4 separate regions of the Homo sapiens genome follow, and regions 2, 3 and 4 are each reported to be linked to region 1. Evidence: microRNA targets listed by miRTarBase, many of them from high-throughput screens and not tested one by one. Region 1 holds a microRNA gene; each other region holds the end of a gene's coding sequence.
What was found. Region 1 holds the annotated microRNA hsa-miR-6729-3p (UCAUCCCCCUCGCCCUCUCAG, at 2,315-2,335, opposite strand). A microRNA usually pairs through its seed, bases 2 to 8, with sites in the 3' UTR of a target mRNA and lowers its output. Matches are read on the target gene's strand: a 7mer-m8 pairs with bases 2 to 8, a 7mer-A1 pairs with bases 2 to 7 and ends in A, and an 8mer does both.

Region 2: the mRNA of ANKMY1 is a reported target of hsa-miR-6729-3p. The part of its 3' UTR that is shown has no 7-base or 8-base seed match.
Region 3: miRTarBase lists TBCK as a target of hsa-miR-6729-3p. Seed matches in the 3' UTR shown: 7mer-m8 at 3,064-3,070 and 8mer at 2,705-2,712.
Region 4: the mRNA of ATP13A4 is a reported target of hsa-miR-6729-3p. Seed matches in the 3' UTR shown: 7mer-m8 at 2,102-2,108.

Annotation. Positions count from the first base shown.
Region 1 is chr1:12,025,303-12,031,536 of GRCh38, reverse strand. It overlaps MIR6729 (microRNA 6729), which reads right to left and starts at 2,379; the gene lies at 2,315-2,379. MIIP (migration and invasion inhibitory protein) reads right to left here. Exons shown (of 10, transcript NM_021933.4): 5 at 2,396-2,504; 6 at 2,256-2,314; 7 at 1,643-1,772; 8 at 1,413-1,509; 9 at 134-271.
Region 2 is chr2:240,476,139-240,480,138 of GRCh38, reverse strand. ANKMY1 (ankyrin repeat and MYND domain containing 1) reads left to right here. Exons shown (of 18, transcript NM_001282771.3): 18 at 484-717. The coding sequence ends at 530. Among named protein-coding and RNA genes, the nearest start is that of GPC1-AS1, 21 kb to the right of the region's middle. RefSeq lists enhancers at 414-923, 924-1,433, 1,434-1,943.
Region 3 is chr4:106,043,006-106,047,005 of GRCh38, forward strand. TBCK (TBC1 domain containing kinase) reads right to left here. Exons shown (of 26, transcript NM_001163435.3): 26 at 1-3,675. The coding sequence ends at 3,565. Among named protein-coding and RNA genes, the nearest start is that of NPNT, 150 kb to the left of the region's middle.
Region 4 is chr3:193,397,970-193,404,203 of GRCh38, forward strand. It overlaps ATP13A4 (ATPase 13A4), which reads right to left. Exons shown (of 30, transcript NM_032279.4): 30 at 998-4,895. The coding sequence ends at 4,683. Among named protein-coding and RNA genes, the nearest start is that of ATP13A5, 22 kb to the left of the region's middle.

The DNA.
Region 1 (6,234 bases):
AGAGAGACACTCCCAGGCTCCATCCTCCCCACCTCAATCCTACCCCCCAGGAGGCTCTGCAGTCCCCAGGCCTGCTGCGAGGTCTCTGTCCCTCTAGGGGGCACCCCAGGCTAGGATGCGATCTGGACCGTACCGGGTGAAAAGGGCTGCTGGTGCCGGACAGCTTCTGGTGCTGGGCCTCAGCGGAGACAGAGGACCAGAGGTCCAGGTTCCTGGGGGCTGAGCTTTTCTCAGACTTCGGAGGAAAAATGTCCCAGCCCAGCAGGCAGTGCTGTGGAAGGCAAGGAGTTAAAAGTGCCTGACCTGGGACAAGCTCCCCGCTGACTGGGCACACCCCCATCAGGGAGGAACTGTGCCCCCCATTAGGAAGGAGGCCCCCACCAAGGCAGGGCCTGTGTCTACCCACAAGACTACCCCAGCTCTCCCCTTTCTTATCCTGGCAGATCCAGCCATCCCTGGGGCCCTGAGAGCTGAAATGGGAGGAGGATAGGACGGTGACAGTGACATTCACAGGGTACTTCCTGCTGTAGGCTCTCCAAGCACCTGCATGGATTGCTTCACTCAACAGCCCCACCTCACCACCAACATCCCTGAGGATGGCGCTGTTATGTCCATTTTACGGACCAGCAAACTGACTTTCCTCTGCATCCTTCTCCTCCTCTGACCCCAGCTGCCCTACTCTCAATTTAGGAGTCAGGGGGAGTTGCCACTGGCACCCCATCCCGACCTGGAGACACAGGAAAGGACATTTTTTTTTTTTTTGAGATGGAGTCTCACTCTGTCACCCAGGCTGCAGTGCAGTGGCGAGATCTCAGCTCACTGCAGCCTCTGCCTCCCAGGTTCAAGCGATCCTCCCACCTCAGCCTCCCAAGTAGCTGGGACTACAGTGGAGGCTGCAGTGAGCTGAGACCATGCCAATGCACTCCAGCCTGGGCAGTAAGAACAAAACTCGGTCTCAAAAAAAAAAAAAAAAAAAAAAAGCAGCAGCAGCAGCACAGAGACCTAGGTTCGAATCCCAGCTCCTCCACCAAGGCGCCTCCCCCTCTGCTTCGGTCTCCCCACCTGCAGGGTGGGGGTACAGCAGTGCCTACACTCCTGGCTGCTGTGGGGGCTCCATGAGATAAGCCCCCTAAGGACTGTGCCTGCAGTACACAAAAGCGCAATAAACAGGACCCATTCATGTCATGCCAGCCTGCAGGCAGATCACCCTGGAAGCACCGGGGTACGTGGAGCGGGGGTCCTACCTCCCTTAGGTACAGGTGTGGGTGATGGAAGAGGCCCAGGCTGTGCTCCAGAGACTTGGGCGCTCACCCTTGTCGAGCCCAGTCTCGCTCTGTGACCCTCCCTGGGGATCTGGGCCAGTCTGAGCCAGCCCCGCCCTCATCACCATCCAGCCCCACGTGGCTGCTCACCCGGGGCAGGGCCAGTGTGTCAGAGGCGTCAAAGCTCTTTCGCCGGTGGATGTGGTACCGGTGCGGGGGCTCCAGGATCGACAGCGGGATGCTCACCCTGCGCAGGGGGGCAGTGGGGGACCCCTGAGGAGCCTCCCAGCGGTTGGGGGCCCACGCCCAGGCCCATCTTTTCTTAAAACCAGTGGTTCAGGCTCTGTCCCCCAAGGTGTCCCAATACTCTGGTCACTCACCTGACGTGCGCTGGCTGCGCCAGGGTCCCAGGGCCCTGCTGGTCTCGCGGTGTCCTGCACAGGCGGCAGGGGGTACCGGGATCCACAGGCACCGGGAACAGGCGCCGGTTGACACGGTAACAGTACACGCCTGCGAGGCCCATGAGAAGCCACAGCTCTCCCTGAGCCAGGAACCCAGGTCCCCAGGCTCCGTGCTGCCCTCAGCGGCCCCCAACCACACAAGCTGCCAATCCCTCTGGGAAGCCCTTCGGCCCATTTCCTCCTAACCCCTTTCCTCCCAGAACCTGGGGCCCACGCCCTAAGGGGTGGGGAGGGACATCCTCCTGGGGCCCTCAGGAGCTGGGATGGAGTCCCACCAGCACAGGGGCACTGCTGGGGAGGGTGGGATGGTGCCACACAGGGCAGCCCCTAATTCGGTGGCCAGGCCTTAGCTCACTCCACCCCTACCAGGGCTTGGCCACCCTGTCCAGACTGCAGGCCTCCCTCCATGAGTCTCAACATCTCAGGGGCCTCCCCAGGCCCCAAACCTCAAATGGGACTGCTCTGGGGCAGGGGAGGCCAGGGCAGCGCGAGGCTGGACTACTCAGCGGCCTAGCCGAGGGCCCGCACTCACATTCATGGTCTTCCTCCACGCCGCTGCCACTGCTCTCACGCAGGCCTGGCAACTGGGGTCTGAGAGGGCGAGGGGGATGAGCAGGCCGGGGGATGGAGCCGCTCAGCCGCCCTCGCCCACCCTCGCCCGCCCCTGCTCACTCAGGATGGCTGCAGATACACTCCTCCTTGTTGGTTTCCCGAAACTCCTGCAGCTTGGAGAAGAAGGCCTCAGGCTGGCTGGTGATGGAAGAGCTGGTGTCCAGAGACCCTGGTGTGGGCAAAGCACCAGGCAGCTGACGGGAGAGGGGCTGGGGGCTGCTGTGTGGCCACCGGCCAAGGCTTGGAGAGACGATCAGCCCTGGCACCCCAGGCCACCTGCTTCATCCCTACTGTGCCTCAAACAGGCCAGGAGGGCCCCTCCAGTCACTGGGACTGTTGGTTGGTTTCAGTGTCTGTCTACCCTGATGCATAGCCAACCATCCATGGAAAAAATATCGACAGAGCCCTTATGACAGGGCTAGATGCTGTTTCATGTGCCAGGAACTAGACAGACAAAGCCCCTGGCCTTAATGAGGCTTACACTGTAAGGTGGCAAGAGATGAACTAGCCACCAAAAAAAAAAAAACCCGTGATACAAGACTGAATGCTGATACCTGCCAGAAAGCAAGAGAGCAGCGTCAGAGCCTAGTATGGCCGGGCAGCCATACCAGGGAAGGCCTCTCCGAGTGAGATGACCCTGAGCAGAGACATGGAGAAGCCACAGAGACCTCCCAGGAAGGACATCGCAGGGAGATGAAAGAGCAAGCGCAAAGGCCCCGGGGTGGGCATGTGCATGGTTCAGCTGAGGAACAGCCAGGAGGGGAAAGTGGCAGGAAGGCAGCGAGGGTGGAGGAGATGAGGTTAAGAAGCCCAGGGAGGGTCTGGGGAATGGGAGGGACACAACCACATCAGCCACATATTTTTACAGAACTCCTCCTCTGGCTGCTTCAAGTTGAGGGGAAGCAGAGGCATCGGTTAGGATTCAGCTGGGGAGAGGTAGGGGCAGCCCCCAACTTACCATGATTCGACTTAGGATGTTTCTTTTTTTATTTTTTGAGACAGAATCTCACCGTGTTGCCCAGGGTGCAGTGCAGTGGAGCGACCTCGGCTCACTGCAACCTCTGCCTCCCAGGTTCAAGCGATTCTCATGTCTCAGCCACCTACAGAGCTGGAATTACAGGCGTGCGCCACCACACCCAGCTAATTTTTGTATTTTTAGTAGAGACGGGGTTTCACCATCTTGGCCAGGCTGTTCTCAAACTCCTGGCCTGATCCACCTGCCTCGGCCTCCCAAAGTGCTGGGATTACAGGCGTGAGCCACCGCACCCGGCCTAAACAGTATTTTCAACTTATGTTGGGTGTATCAGGATGTAGCTGGATGGTAAATCCAGCAAGTTTATGGCCTGACCTATTTAGTATTTGGAGTTGCCATTTATGGAGACAGGAAAGACTGCAGGAGGAGCACAGCAGTGGAAATCAGGACCTTGATTTCGGACAGAAGGTTAATAACTTCATGGTGATGTGGAGAAGACAGTGGGATATACAAGTCTGGAATTCGGAGGAGAGGTGCGGGCTAGAGATACAAATGGAGAAGTAGAGAAAGTGTCCAAACACCTCAGCGTTTGGGAGATCATAGAGGGAAGATAGAGAGGAGGAGTCAGAAGACCGAGTCCCAGGCCTAGGGGTGTAGCAGTCAGAACAAGGACCTTTCCTTCCCCAGAAGCCTGGGAAGGAGCACCAACAGAGATGGGGGAGAACCGGGAAGCAAGTGGCTGGAAGTCCAGGGGAGAAAGTGCTTCAGGAGTGACCACTGTGTCCCCTGCTACTCAAAGGAAGATGTGGATGAGGGCTAAGCTGGGGAGTTGGCACCACGGAGGCCACTGATGACCCAACTGAGGGCCATGTTGATGAAATGCTGGGAGCTGAAGCCCGATTTAAGAAATAGTAGTGGAGGCTGGACACAGTGGCTCATGCCTATAATCCCAGCACTTTGGGAGGCCAAGGCGGGCAGATCACTTGACATCGGGAGTTCCAGACCAGACTGGCCAAGATGGCGAAACCCTGTCTCTGGCTAAAAATACAAAAATGAGCTGAGTGTAGTGGTGCATGCCTGTAATCCCAGCTACTTAGGTGGCTGAGACAGGAGAATCACTTGAACCTGGGAGGCGGAGGTTGCAGTGAGCTGAGATCACTGCTCCACTGCACTCCAGCCTGGGTGAAAGAACGAGACTCCATCTCAAAAAAAAAAAAAAAAAGAAAAAGAAAAGGAATAGTAGTGGAGAGAAATTGAAGGCAACGAGGCTAGACAGCCCTTTTGAAGAGGAAGTTTTGTTATCGAGAAAACAGGCAGTCACTGGAAGCAAATGTGGGCTAAAGGTAGGAATGTGGCATCGGGATGAGAAATAACAGACAGCGGCTTTACCCCGACTGGATGTGAGCTGCTGGTAAGATTCTGTCTCACCGGGCCTCAGCCTTCCCATCTGTGAATGGGCACCATGGTGGTGCCTACCTAATAAGCTTATCATGAAGGGCAAAGGAGTCAGCGGGAGGAACAGGAAGCACAGCTCGGAGCGGTGCCTGGTGCAGGGAGCATGAGATACAACCAGCTCCCAGAATGCTTCCTGCACGTTCATGCTCATGCTAAGGGGCAGGATGAGGATGCAGGACAGAGAGGGAGAGGATCACAGGAAGGAAACCCTGGAGGAGCCAGAAGCAGAGGGGCGGAGCACGCTGGAGCAGGGCCAGGGTCCAGGTGGCAGCATGGACAGTCACCTCGGCAAAGGCAGGGGAGCAGAGCGCATGGACCAAGAGCAGGTACTGGGACAGGCGCTTCCATTTTCCCAGAACCAGGAAGGAGGGCAGTGAGCTGAGAGTTCAAGAAGTACTCAAGGGCAGGGCCTGTGTCCCCGCCACCAGTTGCTCTCAGCAACTCCACAGTACACCTGTCTTTGTTTTTTGAGACAGAATCTCACTTTGTCGCCCGGGTTAGAGTGCAGTGGCTTGATCTCTGCTCACTGCAGCCTCCACTTCCTGGATTCAAATGATTCTCCTGCCTCAGCGTCCTGAGTAGCTGGGATTATAGGTGCCCGCCACCACACCTGGCTAATTTTTGTATTTTTAGTAGAGACAGAGTTTCACCACGATGCTCAGGCTGGTCTCGAACTCCTGACCTCAAGTGATTCGCCCACCTCGGCCTCCCAAATTGCTGGGATTACAGGCGTGAGCCACCATGCCTGGTCGTGGCCTCCTTTCTGGTCCTGCCATGCCTGTGGCCACCCCATTATGTGTGTAATCCCAGCACTTTGGGAGGCCAAGGCGGGCAGATCACCTGAGGTCAGGAGTTCGAGACCAGCCTGGCCAACATGGTGAAACCCCGTCTCTACTAAAAATACAAAAATAAGCCAAGCATGGTAGTGGACGTCTGTAATCCCAGCTACCTGGGAGGCTGAGGAAGAATTGCTTGAACCAAGGAAGCGGAGGTTGCAATGAGCAGAAATAACACCACTGGACTTGACTCTGGGCAACAGAGAAAACAAATAAAAATAAAAAAGGAGGAGGCCGCGAGGCTGGAAGAAAGACGGGAGGTCACATCATGGGGCCAGTAGAGGCCAGATCATGCCTCGTAAGTCTAGATAGGGATTTTGGATTTTACAGTAAGTGCTGGGAAAAGCCCATGGGGAGGTTTGAGTAGGGGAGTGACATGATCTGATTCCCATGTTTAAAAATTCCCTCTGGCTGCTATGTCAAAAGTGACAGTGCACAACCATGTCACCAGCAGCATTATTCCCAACAGTCAAGAGATGGAAAGCACCCAAGTGTCCATCCCTGAATGAACAGATAAACAACATGTGGCATCTACACACAACAGAATGTCACTCAGCCTTAAAAAGGAAGGGAATTCCAGCCAGGCACAGCGGCTCACACCTGTAATCCCAGCACTTTGGGAGGCCGAGGCAGGA
Region 2 (4,000 bases), not on the chromosome of region 1:
CTCACTGCAACCTCCGCCTCCCCGGTTCCAGTGATTCTCCTGCCTCAGCCTCCCGAGTAGCTGGGATTACAGGCTAATTTTTTGTATTTTTAGTAGAGACGTGGTTTCACCGTGTTAGCCAGGATGGTCTCGATCTCCTGATCTGGTGATCCACCCACCTCGGCCTCCCAAAGTGCTGGGATTACAGGCATGAGCCACCGCGCGCAGCCAATGGGGCTTTTAATAACAGGCGCCCTCGGTGAGGTCGCAGCTCCTTGGCTTGTAGACTCCAGGATGGGACTTGGTGGGTGTGGCAGGCCCCTCTTTGAAGAGTCACGGCAGATAGCCCTCAGTCCTTGCTGCATCCCGACTCCTTGCCTGCAAAAGCTCTAGACAGAGCACAGTCCTCAGCCGCCCCACACAGCCCGAGTTCTGGAGCCAGGCCTCGGGGGAGGCCAGCTCCAGCCCCCTCTTCCCCCTCCCCCACACCTTTTCCTCCTCCAGTGACACAACTGGAGCAAGTTTCCAGGAGGAGAGAAGAATTCCAGTGAAGCAGCAGCTGCACGTCCGAGGCTTGGGGAGGACCCAGGACTGTGTGGGTTTCTTACCTGCCTGAGCCACCTCAGGGAATCTTCCAGCCTAATGCAGGCATTTCTGCACCTTTGGGGTCATGCTTTGTAGCAGTGTCTCCCTTGCGACCTCGCAATAAATTGGCCCCACGGGGTGATTTTGACAGTCTGTGCTGTGCTCTGCCCCTAGCTGGGCAAAGTCCCAGAGCTTTTGTGGAGCCCGTGCCTGCCTCTGCCCCTGGCTTTGATCTTGCTTGGCCTCCCATGGGGCATGGCCTGGGCCATCCTGATGGACGAGGCAGGTGAGGGTCAGGACTCGGAGCCTGCTGCAGAGATGGCGGTGGGGGCAGCTCCTGGGTCTCTGGAGCTTGTTCTGGGACCTTGCCAGGAGCCCGCGGCAGCAGGCTCCACTCCCTGCTCAGGTGCCCATGGGTGCAAGGCTCCTACTGGGGTTTGCGGTGCTCGTTTGTTCCCCGTGCACTTACGGAGTGTCTGCTGTGTGCTGAGTGTTCTGGGGACGATGGTGTTTGTGGAAATCACTGGGAATGAGAGGAAGGAGGGCCTGGAGCACATGACAGGGAGCAGTGTTGCCTTCGAGGGTGGCCTGCGTGGAAATTCACGGAGAGGGCAGGGGAAGATGCGCAGTGAGGGGCGGACCTGGAGAAGGACGACAGCATCCCCGGAGACAAGGGGACAGCGTCCAGGGATGAGGACGATGGGGGTTTGCTGCTGAGGGCAGAATAGCTGGGAGTGTGGGGGGTGGGAGCCTGTGTCGGGGCTGGAGCCAAGCAGGTGAGACCCCGCTCCAGGCTGGCTTGTGGCTGTCAAAGCAGCTGCACCTGCAGTGATTTTTTTTTTTTACTGACTTTCCTGGTCTCGCCAAAGATGGGCTCCATGCTGGGGGTTTGTTGGGGGTGCCCTGGGAAAGGCTTCTGTAAGGGGTCAGCAGTGAGCCTGGGCAGAGGGACAAGCTGACCGCTGGGTGGCTCTTCATAGGGGCTCCCAACGGACGCAGGGACCAGGCCTTTGTACCCCTGCATCGGCTGGTCACCAGCCACAGGCTGCCCCTGGGAGGGTCGTAACTGTGTGAGCTGGCTCCCTGCCGCCAAGAGCTGTTCCTGCTCAGGGGGGTCTGGGATGCTGGGTGGGTGTAGGCACCCCCGGCTTCCACTACCTCTGCTAGAAAGGAAAAAGCTGCTAATGGATACTTATTTGATGGTACACTTAATTCTATAAAAGTTAGAGAATATCTACAAAGCAAAAGAAAGAACCTGTAAGTGACAATTATCCGCACTGTATTAGTCCATTCTCGCACTGCTACACGTACATATCAGAGACCGGAAAATGTATAAAGAAAGGAGGTTTAATTGGCTCAGGGTTCTGCAGGCTGCACAGGAAACATGGCGGCATGTGCTCAGCTTCAATCATGGCGGAAGGAGAAGGGGAAGCCGGCACTTCGCATGGCTGGAGCGGGAGGAAGGGGAGGGGCTGCCACACACTTTTCAAAACAGCCAGATCTCGTGAGAATTCTATGACCACGAGAACTGCACCAGATGGGGAAGTCTGCCCCCGGGATCCAATCACCTCCCACATTGGGGATTACAATTTAACATGAGATTTGGGCAGAGACATAGATCCAAAGCGTATCACAGACACCTGGATATTACCATGGCCAACGCTTTGTGTGTGTCCTTCTGATCTCTACAGGCATGAGTGCACACAGACAGACGTGTATCTAAAAGTGGGAGCATCCTCTCTGTTCTGAACTAGGCCATGAACATCTATGTTATTAAATATTTTTCTGCAACATAATTTCCCCAAATGAATATAGCTTTATTTTTTATTATATATGCAATATACGCTTATTTAAGAAAGAAGACAGCAAAGACAAGAGTGATAAAAATAACTGGGGGAGGTGGCATATACCTGTGATCCCAGTGACTTGGGAGGCCGAGGCAGGCGGATTGCTTGAGCCCCGGAGTTCCAGACCAGCCTGGGCAACATAGACCCTGTCTCTAAAAAAAAGATCTTAGTCAGGTGTGGTCGCACACACCGTAGTCCCAGCTACTCAGGAGGCTGTGGTGGGAGGATTGCTTGAACTAGGAGTGTGAGGCTACAGTGAGCTGTGATGGCACCACTGTGCTCTGGCCTGGATGAGAGAAAGATGCTAACAACTAATTTTTAAAAATGAGAAAATCATCTTAATCTTAAAATTCAGGGATAAGCATTCTGAGCATTTTGGGGAACATATTCTTTATTTTTATTATTTTTTTTGAGACAGAGTTTCTCTCTTGTTACCCAGGCTGGAGTGCAATGGCAGGGTCTTGGCTCACTGCAACCTCTGCCTCCTGGGTTCAAGCGATTCTCCTGCCTCAGCCTCCTAAGTAGCTGGGATCATAGGCATGCGCCACCACGCCCAGCTAATTTTGTATTTTTAGTAGAGATGGGGTTTCTCCACGTTGGGCAGGCTGGTCTCAAACTCCTGACCTCGTGATCCACCCACCTCAGCCTCCCAAAGTGCTGGGATTACAGGCGTGAGCCACTGCGCCCGGCCTCCACTGGTCCCTTTTCATTGGAGATGTTTGCTCTTCCTGATGGATGGGAACTCTCTAAAGCACAGCAACTTCTCCTATGCCTTGTGTGCAAATAACTGTCTTGCAGTTTGCAGTTTGCACGTGGAAGTTTTTCTCGTGTTGTGAAATCCACGTGTCCTTTCCTCAGGGCCTGGCTTGCTGGAGTGCGTAGAGAGCAGTCCCTTGCTGGGCTTATGTATGCAAGGGTAGCCTTTGCCCAGATTCTCACCACCGTTTTAATGAATTACTGCTTAACCTGTAATTGTATAACCAATCTAGCATTAATTTTTGTGTAAGGTTTGAGAGCCAGCTATCTAGATCTATCCCCAAACAATGGGCGTGATCGAGTAATCCATTTCTTTTCCCTGGTGGGCATATGCCTGCCTCTTAGTTGCCGTAGGGGCCCCTTCTGTGCTCTGCTGTCTCCACCTGCAGCTCTGTGGCCTTTTCACATCTGCCAGGACAGGCCCACCCTCCTCTTCACCGGCCCTGTGAAAGGCCCTGCGGTGACCATGTGCTTTTTCTTCCAGATGAATTGTGCAGTGTGTGTCAAGTTCTAAAATGTCTCGTTGGGACTTAGCAATTATCTTGTTTCATTTGATTGGCAGACAGTTGGCATCTTTTGAGCAGAGTTTTCTGGCTTGTGAGATGATACTGTGGTCACTTGGTATATGGTGTAAGATAAGGGTATATGGTGTAAGATAAGGGTCCAATTTCTCTCTTCTGCATGTACATATCCGACTTTCCAAGCGCCATTTGCTAAAGAGGCTCCTTTTGCTATTGTATATTCTTGGTCCCCTTGTCAAAGATTAGTTGGCTGCATATGTGTGAGTTTATTTCTGGACTCTATATTCTGTTTCATTGTATCTGTTTTTATGA
Region 3 (4,000 bases), not on the chromosome of region 1:
CATAAGATCCAAAGCTATGTCTTCTATTCCTATATGTATTCCAAAACCTGAGTTCTTGGGGCTTATATTGATACTGGGTATCCCACGGGCCTAAAAGCTGTGCCTTTCAGGTCCTTTTCATTTCTGACATCAAAAAACTTCTTTCTTTCAAACTTGGTTAAGCATTAGTTATTTTTAATATGCTTTTTGAATCTAACATTTCTGTATTTTGAAAAGAGGATGCAACTAGATTAAATTACCTTATTTTGGAAGTTATCTGCTCCAACTTCTAGAATTATCAGATTTTAGAGCTGGATGGGACTTTAGAGATCCTTTTTTCACTCCATGAATTGAGATTTCAATTTATTTCTATACTATCAGGTACCAGATAAGTTTGGCAGTTGAAAAAAATTACCACAGGTTATTTTTATTTTTCTCCCTTCAAATAGATTCTAAAATTGATAGATTCAATTTTATATTAATTGAGCATATCCAATGTGGTGGGTTGCTGAAGGTAGCAAGAGGTATAAATTATAGCTCCTGATCTTAAGCAGCTCATATTTTAATAGGGGACTAAATGTAAACAAACGATTGCAAAATGATGTAATAAATCTATTATTAGTAAATTATGAATGGAATGCTTTAGTAGATTTGGGGCTCTTAGTGCAGCATGGGGAAGCCAGAGAAGACTGGAGGAGGTACACTGTTGTTGCTAGATTATCAAGAGTTAATAAGTGTGTTTATGAATGTGAGTGTGTGTGTGTGTGTGTGTGTATGTATATCTGTGTGGGCTGGTGGTGGTACTTATGGCATTCCAGGTAAAGCCAGAAACAGTGCTGATAGTCATCGTGTAGGAATCAATAATACATTAAAAAGGAACTCAAATAAATCCTGGGTTATATACGTTTAATCTAACAAATAGTTGTTGAGGTCAACTGTTCGTATCATCCACCATGAAATAACATGCCCTGTGTATAAACATGGCAGTGATAGTGTGCTCTTACTTTACTGTTGAGAATATTAAATATTATAATTTTCATGTTTAAAAAACTTCAATTTCTTGGAATAAGCCTAAATGTGTCGTTTTAAGAAAGATCAAATGCAAAATCATGACAGAGGGTTGCTACTATTATCTTCTTACATAGCTCTCTTCACAAGGTCTTCATCCTCTCCTACTACCTACCACCTTATTCAACTCAAATCACTGCCCCTCCATCCCTCTCTTCTCTGCTTTCTCAGTAAGGCAGAGTTAAGACTCAGAATGATCATCAATGGTGCATTCTGATTATGAACTCAGGTAAGTCATCAAAGACTGAAGGAAGAAAATAGTAATTGCCAGGACAGGAGGATTTAATATTTCTCTGAAGAGGGTAGACAATGGCCCAAAAACAATGTTAGTGAAATCTTGGTATATATTTGTTCTCATTAATTCTCACATTTTTTTCCTTGTAAACTAGGTAAGGATCACAAATGATATAACTATGGATTATATTAGTGTCTTAGAAATACATAGTAGGTATTCAAAACATATTTGGTGAATGACCAAATAAATTGAATAAAACAAACAAAACAGGAGGGGTCCTGGGACAACTGGATACTCATATGCAAGAATGAACCTGGACCCCTCACTCCATATACAAAAATTTATCAAAGACCTTAGGAGGGGTTAATGTGGAATACCTGCTGATCAGGTAGACAATTGCATACAATGAAAGTATTCTGGATAATACTGATTGCACAACTTTGTGAATACACTAAAAACTACTGAACTGTACATGTTAAAAGGATGAATTTTATGGTTAAGTATATCTCAATTTAAAAAGTAGATGCAAAGAAAAAATAAAATAAAGTAAACAATAGCAGCAACAACAAAACCATGGCCCAGAAAGCTGAATTGAGGCTCTTATTGAAATGTTCTGCCTAGGCAGTCTTAACATTGGAGTGGAATGTAAGTTATAGATGAATGAACACTTTTTAGTTAAAACAAAATTGAAGATAATTAAAGGATATGCTATATTTCATATATATGAGGCATTTTTTTTTTCAGATTTCTGAAATGGGAATGTATCTTTCTTTTTTTTTTTTTTTTTGAGATGGCAGGGTGAGCCCTGTTGCCCAGGCTGGGGTACAGTGGCCCTATCATGGCTCATTGCAACCTCTGCCTCTCAGGTTCAAGTGATTCTCCTGCCTCAGCCTCCTGAGTAGCTGGGACCGCAGACGTGTGCCACTATGACCAGCTAATTTTTATATTTTTAGTAGAGACAAAGTTTCCCCATGTTGGCCAGGCTGGTCTCAAACTCCTGACCTCGGCCTCCCAGGGAATGTGTCTTTTAATTGACAAAGTGTCACAATTCATTTGGCTTCATTTTTTCTTTGTGGTACCTAAAATTGTGAGATGTCTTAGATTTAATGAAATATAATACTCATTTTAAAAACAATGTGGCAGAGGCAGAGGTTGTTAGCTGTACCTCAATATGTACTCTCTTCTTCCCACACAGTAATAAGAATGTTTTTAGCTGGGGAAATGATCAACCACCCAAAGACTCTATTTCCAGTTTTCCTTAAAGCTAGGTGTGGCCATGCACCCAAGTTCTGGCCAATGATATGTAAGCAGAGGTAGTGTGCGCAACTTCTGGTTTATGACCTTAAAGGGAAGGAGTGTGCTTCGCTTCTTTTCCTTTCTTTTCTTCTTTCCTCCCTCCTTCTTTTGTTCCTTCTTTTCTCTTCATCCCCTCCCTCCTTCCCTCATTCTCTTCCTTCTAGATAGCAGATGTGATGGTAGAAGCTGAGGAGCCATTTTCATCCATGAGATGGATGCCACATATTGAGGTTTGTAAAGCAATGAGAGAAGGTAATGAGTTCTTAATGATCAGGAAACCAGTAGACTAGCCCTGGACTGACTGTACAGACTTTCATGTGATAAAGAAACTAGAAAATTTGTTTAAGCCATTCGTCTTTGCTACAGGAACTGACCAAATATTCTATCAAATATAAATGGTTTCTAAATTTCATTTTTCTGGGAGTAAGTATTACCACTTTCTGCAATGGGATAAACTCCACTTCCTATACACACACACACACACACATCCCCCTTGTTTGGGTGAAATGAGTTACTAAATGTAGCATTTATTTATAAGGAATGCATTGTGAATAGTTTCTCAGTTTTCATTATGGAAAGATGATGATTTCAGCCCACATTCAGTGTATGTTTCTAAATAACACAATCGACAGGACTGTCTGTTCAGTACAATGGAGGACAGCTTTTTCAGGGCAAATGGGATTTCTTGATAATGCTAAATCTGTCTTGTCAGCTGAATTTCTTGGGCTTTATGTGGCAGTGTGGTAAAAATATATGATCAGATTTCACTGTTAAGAAAATTCTTTCAGCAATACATGTAGAGTCAAGTTTCTTGCATGGATAACTGAACATGTGGGTTATGAGATTTTAAAAAATGTCTCGTGACAAACTTTACGGAAATGCAACAATCTGGACATCTAGTTTTGTCTGAGAGTGGCGTGGATATGAAGAACTGTGCTGTTGGTGCTGATGCCACACTAAGTTTTGGCAGTCACACTCTTGGTTCTTCATATTTGAGGAGATGGGATGGTGAGGAGGCCTGTTGGCTTTATTTTATTAATGCCACCATCTAGAATACAGATTCTTGGATATTTCATCTTCACAAGGTGAGCTGCAAACTGGAAAAAAAAAGAGGCAAAATTTTTAGAGGATATACAGAAGACATCTCCAACCTCATGTTTTTTCTCAGAATTTGAAAGACAAAATTAATTTAATGTTATGATTGCTGCCACCACTGTATAATAAGTTGTCAACTTGGTTATTAATATAAATTAAATCACTCTTTTATATGCTGACGCTGACAATTTCTTTATCTTATGGAATAAATGTCTCTTCAGTTCTCTTTTATGATTTTTTTGAATATGTGATAAATATACATGGTAAACAATTCAAATTCAGTAGTAAAGGGTATACAATGAGAAGTAAACTCATTCCACTTCTGTT
Region 4 (6,234 bases), not on the chromosome of region 1:
TTCAAGGCAGAGAGGATGGCAAATGCAGTCTTCCTGAGGATAGAGCAAGCTCAGAGTGTTTGACAAAGCCATGTGGCTCACTCCTAAGGCTCTTTCATCAACTCCGGGAGAGTTGTGTTTTGTTGTTAATTTTATCTTTGTTTAATTTTGGAGAAACTCACTTTACTAATAAAGTTTAAAGGCCATTGTTAACAAGTCTAATGGAAACCAAAGGGCAGACAGAATGTTATAGGGCAGCAGTTTTCCAAATGTTTATGCATAGAGAAGTGAGCACAGTTCAAAGCCAAAAGAAAATCTATAGGAACCTGAAAAGCTGTGCCAAGCAAGTCTGAATAAAGATCAAGCAGGGATATAGTTTTCTGTTTCTGGAGACTGAAGTCAGAAACCAGAGCTTTATCCAATCACATGAAATGGGCTCACAGGGCTCTGGTGTTATGATTTTCCTCCCTCAGCTGTGGGAGTTGGCCTTTTCTGTGATTGATGGTCAGGTTCAAGAGAACTTCCATGAAACACCAAAATCTCTTTCTGGAAGAAACTGTGCTCATTATGGCAATTACATTGGACATTTGCCTCGCTGTCGTCTTGTTTTTCAATGCTACGGTTTTTCTCTTCTTTTTTCATTCAGGAAAAACAACATAGGAGAGTGACACAGCAGGGATCTCGCTGATAAAGGACCTGCATCTGAATCCAGCTCCTCCATCCATGGGCCATGTGTCCTGGTTGCTGAGACATCTGGAGAGCCTTGTACCTCATCAAAAGAAGAGAGACAGTAATCCTTGCCTTTCTTTCCTCCTAAGGTTGTTAACGAGGCTTAAATGAGAGAACAAGGATGAAAGTATTTTGTAAACTCTAATGCCCTGTGTATAAAGCAGAGAATAATAGCATCTGTGGTGTTAGAAAATGCCTGGAACTTTGTAAAGATGTTGTTTGATTCAACATTACTGGAGTAAACCACACCATTAGACAGAATGAAAGACTCCACCGCAGAGAGAGAGACTGATTTTTATAACAACTGAATTTATTATAGCATAAACTAAATACAAAGCTCTGAATAAATAATCGTTTTTTTCAGTCATCACATCTGCAGGTGTGTATGTGAACATTTCCATAAGCACATAAGGATACAGATGTCACAGACATATTTAGTGAGGGAAGCCCAGAGTCACGGTTCTCTGTGGGTAAGAGCTAGATGCCTTGAGATGAACATACAGGGCACCGTCTCAAATGATTTGGACTATGTGACTGTGTTCGTTTCTCCTTCAGACTCTGCTCAAGAAAGTGTATTGATAACAGGTTGCTCCGCCCTCAAGTTTAGGGCACTCTCCCACGCTCTTTCATGCAAAGTTTTTTAACACCTCTCTTTAAGAAAATTCACAAATCAGAAGTATTACCCCAGCTTCAATCTGACAATCAGGACCCCTACTCTGCCCCTCTTTCCTAGGATCTTATCTCCATTAGGGGTCCCCTTTCAAGGTACAGGGCAATTGAGTCTATATGTCCACACAATCGGATCTGACAAGGCTGGGAGCCCTCCCTCCAGAGCCCATCCTCCCATGAGTGTCTGTCTGGTATTCTGTGTGGGTAGTAGTAGAAAATAGTTCACATCTGGTGGCTCATGTCTGTAATCCCGGCACTTTGGGAGGCCGAGGCGGGCGGATCACGAGGTCAGGAGATTGAAACCACCCTGGCTAACATGATGAAACCCCATCTCTACTAAAAATACAAAAAATTAGCCGGGCATGGTGGCAGACCTGTAGTCCCAGCTACTTGGGAGGCTGAGGCAGGAGAATGGTGTGAATCCGGGAGGCGGAGCTGGCAGTGAGCCGAGATTGTGCCACTGCACTCTAGCCTGGGCAACAGAGTGAGACTCCATCTCAAAAAAAAAAAAAAAAAAAAAAGGTTCACATCACAGCATAAGACTGAGACACTGGGTGTATCAAGCTTGAAAGAGATCTTGCAGGTAATTGAGTTTCATCTGATACTTGACTTCCTTCTCTACTTGGCCCTTGAATAGCCACTTGTTCCTCCAATGTCCTAGAGTACATTCCACTGCTATCAGTGCTGGCTGTTAGGACAGTGGTTAGGGCAGATGGCCTGAAGCCATCCCCACTGTGATCTTTACCCATTTGTCCTGATTTTGCCTTCTCATGCCACCTGGCACAAGTAGGATCCTTCTTTCTCAGGAAAACCCTTCACAGTCCCCTGACTGTTTTCTTTCCAGGCTGGGCACTCCCTGTTCCTTCAATTACTGCTTCTAAGATGTAGTTAATCCCAGGAATACAGTCTTCAAAATGAGTCTCTTTTCCCAAAGATTTTATGGCTGCTTGACTAGTGGAGGACTAGATTCTTTTCTTCCTGTTCCCTGCCAGCCTTTGCTAGTGATAGAATCACTTAGGATCAAGGCAAGAGCAACTCAAAGTCTCAGAAAGACAGACAATCATTTTTTTGTTTTGTTTTGTTTTGTTTTTAATACACCTCTAGCCCAGGCCTGGCAGGATGCCTGGCATTCATTTGAACAGAGGGCCTGGTATTAGCAAAGGGTTGCCCATTCTTTGCTTGACTGTGAGATCACACTAAGCAACCTGCCCTGCTGGAACTCTGGAATTTGGAAGTATTTGGCAGCAATATAAGGTTTGCTCAGAAGATCTGTATTTGAGGCCTAGATCTGCTCTTGCCATTACTGAATCTCAGCTTTCTCATCTGTATGGTGGAGATGATAAGCCCTTCCTTGTTCAGTCATGGGACAATTGGTACCATTCAGGTGAGTTAGTGGAGGTGAATGCACTTAGCAAAGGGCACATTTAAGTATGAACTGTGCAGGCTGATCTTGCTCATGACTAGGTCACAGACCATCTCTAGCTTGCCCCTGCCTACAACCCTCTACTTTTGGAAAATGAGAAACACTTTTAGAGAAGGACATTCAGAACTGCCATATCATTGCTGAGGCTGGCTTTGCAAAAGGAAACATTTCTTTCTGTACCAAAAAAGACAGTGATTCTGCAGTCTTGAAACACTAAAATATCTTCACGCCCTATTTTAAAACCAGAAGTAACAGGGTACCCTCATGGCTGGGAGACACCATGTTCCTAGAATCAGCTGCAATCATAGAGCCATCAGCCATGCTCAAGAGCTCAGTTAGGGGGAAGGAATGCTTGCAAATGCTATTGATAAGTTCCAAAGCCAGCCTGGGCCAGGACACTTATCCCCTGATCAGAACATTCACCTAGGATTTGATGCTCATAATACAAATTTTGCTTTTGCCTTAAAATATTATATGTAGGTGTGCTCCTAGAGTTCAGTGTTGTCTCCTGAGGTAACAGAAACCTGAGTCTTCCTTGTGCTGAACAAATCAAATATAACCAAATTGTAATAGTGACAAAATAAGGACAATTTTAGTTTTCTGGAAACTCAAGCCACAAACTTTAAAAAAAAAATGTACTAGTTGTGTAAGAACTCCCATCAATAGTGCCATATAATGCTGTAGCATGAGACTAATGTTTCTCAAAAATAATAAAGCAGAGGAGTGAAAATTTCTGGAGTTGGCCATGTGACATGAGAGATTCCTAAAACATAGGATAAGTTACTGGGGTTAGGAAAAGTGGGCTGTAGTGGACAGCACTCGTGCTTTCTGATCTGTTATTTTCCTCTCCTTCCCAGGACTACGTTCCAGACCAACTCTATCATTTGTGGGGCCTGGTACAAAATGAAAATATGGGGACCCCTGTTCAAAAATTAAGAATTTTAAGATGGAAACAGCAGAGTGTTAAAGCCAAGTGTGGGGACCTTCTAAGCATGGGGCCCTGTGTAGTGACAGCTCATAAGCCCATGAAGCATCCCTAAACACAGGAGACTGCACTTTCCAGCTCCCTGGCCAAATCCTTGACTAATGAGATATGAGTAGGGAAAGCAATGTGTGCCACTTTTGGGGTGAGGCAGTGAAGAGCCCACACGTGATCTCCAGTCTATTCCTTCCCCCATCACAGTCAACACACAGTCCTTGCATCGAGCTGATGGAGCCATCAGGTTGAAGCAGTCACTGCTGTAAGAATGGCAGTTCCAGAGTGTCACCTGGATCACGAAAGAAGCACTTGTGTGTTAAGGCACTGATATCTGAGAGTTGTTTTTTATTGCAGCATAGGCTAAGCTTATCCTTAACAATATGTTGGGTAAGGCCAGAAACAGAAGAAAAAGCCTCAAATCTGAAAAGTACTACAGAGAAAAGGAACCCAGACAGTAAAGATTGGTGTAATGTTTCCCACGCATTAGTTTTTCCATCGATGAAGTAAAAATTCAAAAATTACAACTCCGTGAGTATACACAGTACTACTTCCCCTCAACTCATTTTTATAAAAAGGAAAGTATTGTCCTGTCCTAAGAGGAAAGATCACATATTTTTCCCCTTTAGCCTGCTTGTCTCTTGGCCCATAGAAATTCTTGGCCCATTCTTGCCTTCACTGAATGCCTCTAATACCTTCAGAAGCCAAGAGGAAAGCACTCTTCTGGGTCAATGTTCTTCTCTGTAGACAGTATTTTATCAAACAGACTTTAGTTTGTCACCATGATTTGATAGGTAGCCCCAAAACTCCAGCTGATGTTACAAGAGTCTCATTTCTTAAAATCAATGAAACTGGTCCCTTTTGTCATTGTTTCTCTGTAATATCAACTTGGATATCACATGTCCTTCAGAGTTGTTCTTCATTGCTCTCAAATACTGGATTGCTGTAAGACACTCCTCTGCCACACTCCGGCATGTCAGAGTGGGAGGTTTGGTTTAGCGGGGGCCAACTAGGGTCATTTGCCAAGTCCCTCTGCCATATCCGATACTGGCTTTTTGACTGATAGCCGAAACATCTTTTAATCATCATCCACAGGGCTCGATTTTCAATAACAGCCTCCTGCAAAATAAAATAATTACTTTTTACAAGCAAGGGTTGAGTGTTTTGAGGCTACAGCCCTCCACAGGCCATCATAAGTCACTACTGCAATGGTTGCTTAGATCCAGCTTGACAAAGAGCTTGACCACTGGACCAATCTAAGGTGGTTTCATTGGACAGGTATTGGTTTCTCAAACGTTTCTACTTAAGTAACTCCTGTGGGAGAAGTAAGAGGTACAACATTTCAAGACTCTGGGAACATAACTTGAAATGGCTTGCCTCAAAAATGAAGTTTCTTTTGAATCTCACATCTAAATTGAATTTAAAATCATTCAAATTCTATGTTTCACTCTATAGCACATCTATATTTTGTTTAATATAAAATGACATTAAAATTACTACTAAATACTAAACACAATTGACCCTATATAAAGATGTGGCCCATGTATGACATGTTTTTGATATATCCTGACATATCACTGCATATTTAATTTCACACGGGCCAGTCTTGGAGTTGAACAGATCTGGATTTAGGTCCCAGTTCTGACACCTATTATGGGCAAATTAGTTACTCTATCCATGTCTCCGTGATTAGAATAATCCCTTCCTTATGTTTGTTGTAAGGCTTATATAACTCCCTTTACAATGCAGGGCAGGGCAGGGCATAGCTCTCTCCCTTTGCCTACCCTTTGGAACTACTCATTTAACAAATGGCTATGCACTGTGGTCCTGTTCACACATGCCTCTAACCTTCACCTTCACTGAAATACAGTATTAAGATTACAAAAGACATGTCTCTTTGAAAACATTTTGCAATGCCATTTTATTTCATGAGTTAGAGTGAGCCTTGAATAGAGCCCAAGTTATAACTTATAATTCATGAGAGGTTATCATATTAATTTTCCACTTTTATCATGTTTGCTCACAAAGATTGACCATCTTAGAGGTTATTGTGAAAGAAACAAAGAAAAAATATGGGACGTGAAACTGTCCCACAGAATTAGAACTGATTTTCATGTCTATCTTTGCTAATTTGAAAGAGTTAATTCTGTGAGATTCTATAAGGAACTTTGCCAGATATAGTAGTTTTCCTAAAATCTACCCATTTTTGCCATTTAGGTTCCACTGCCCATGAAAGGATAGAGAACAGCCAGTCTGCATTATTCCTGTGATAACTGACCATCTGCTGGCTGCGGGGCTGTTAAAGATCCATATAACCGTCTCAGCCTCTTGGAAACTTAGCCAGATGAGTTATTCTACTTTCCTGCAGCAAGGTTTTTTTGTCCTCCTTAATTGACGTGAAAACAGTAGTTCTTCTTAGAGCTGGGATAAGGCAGGAGCATCGAGTAAAGGTTTTAAA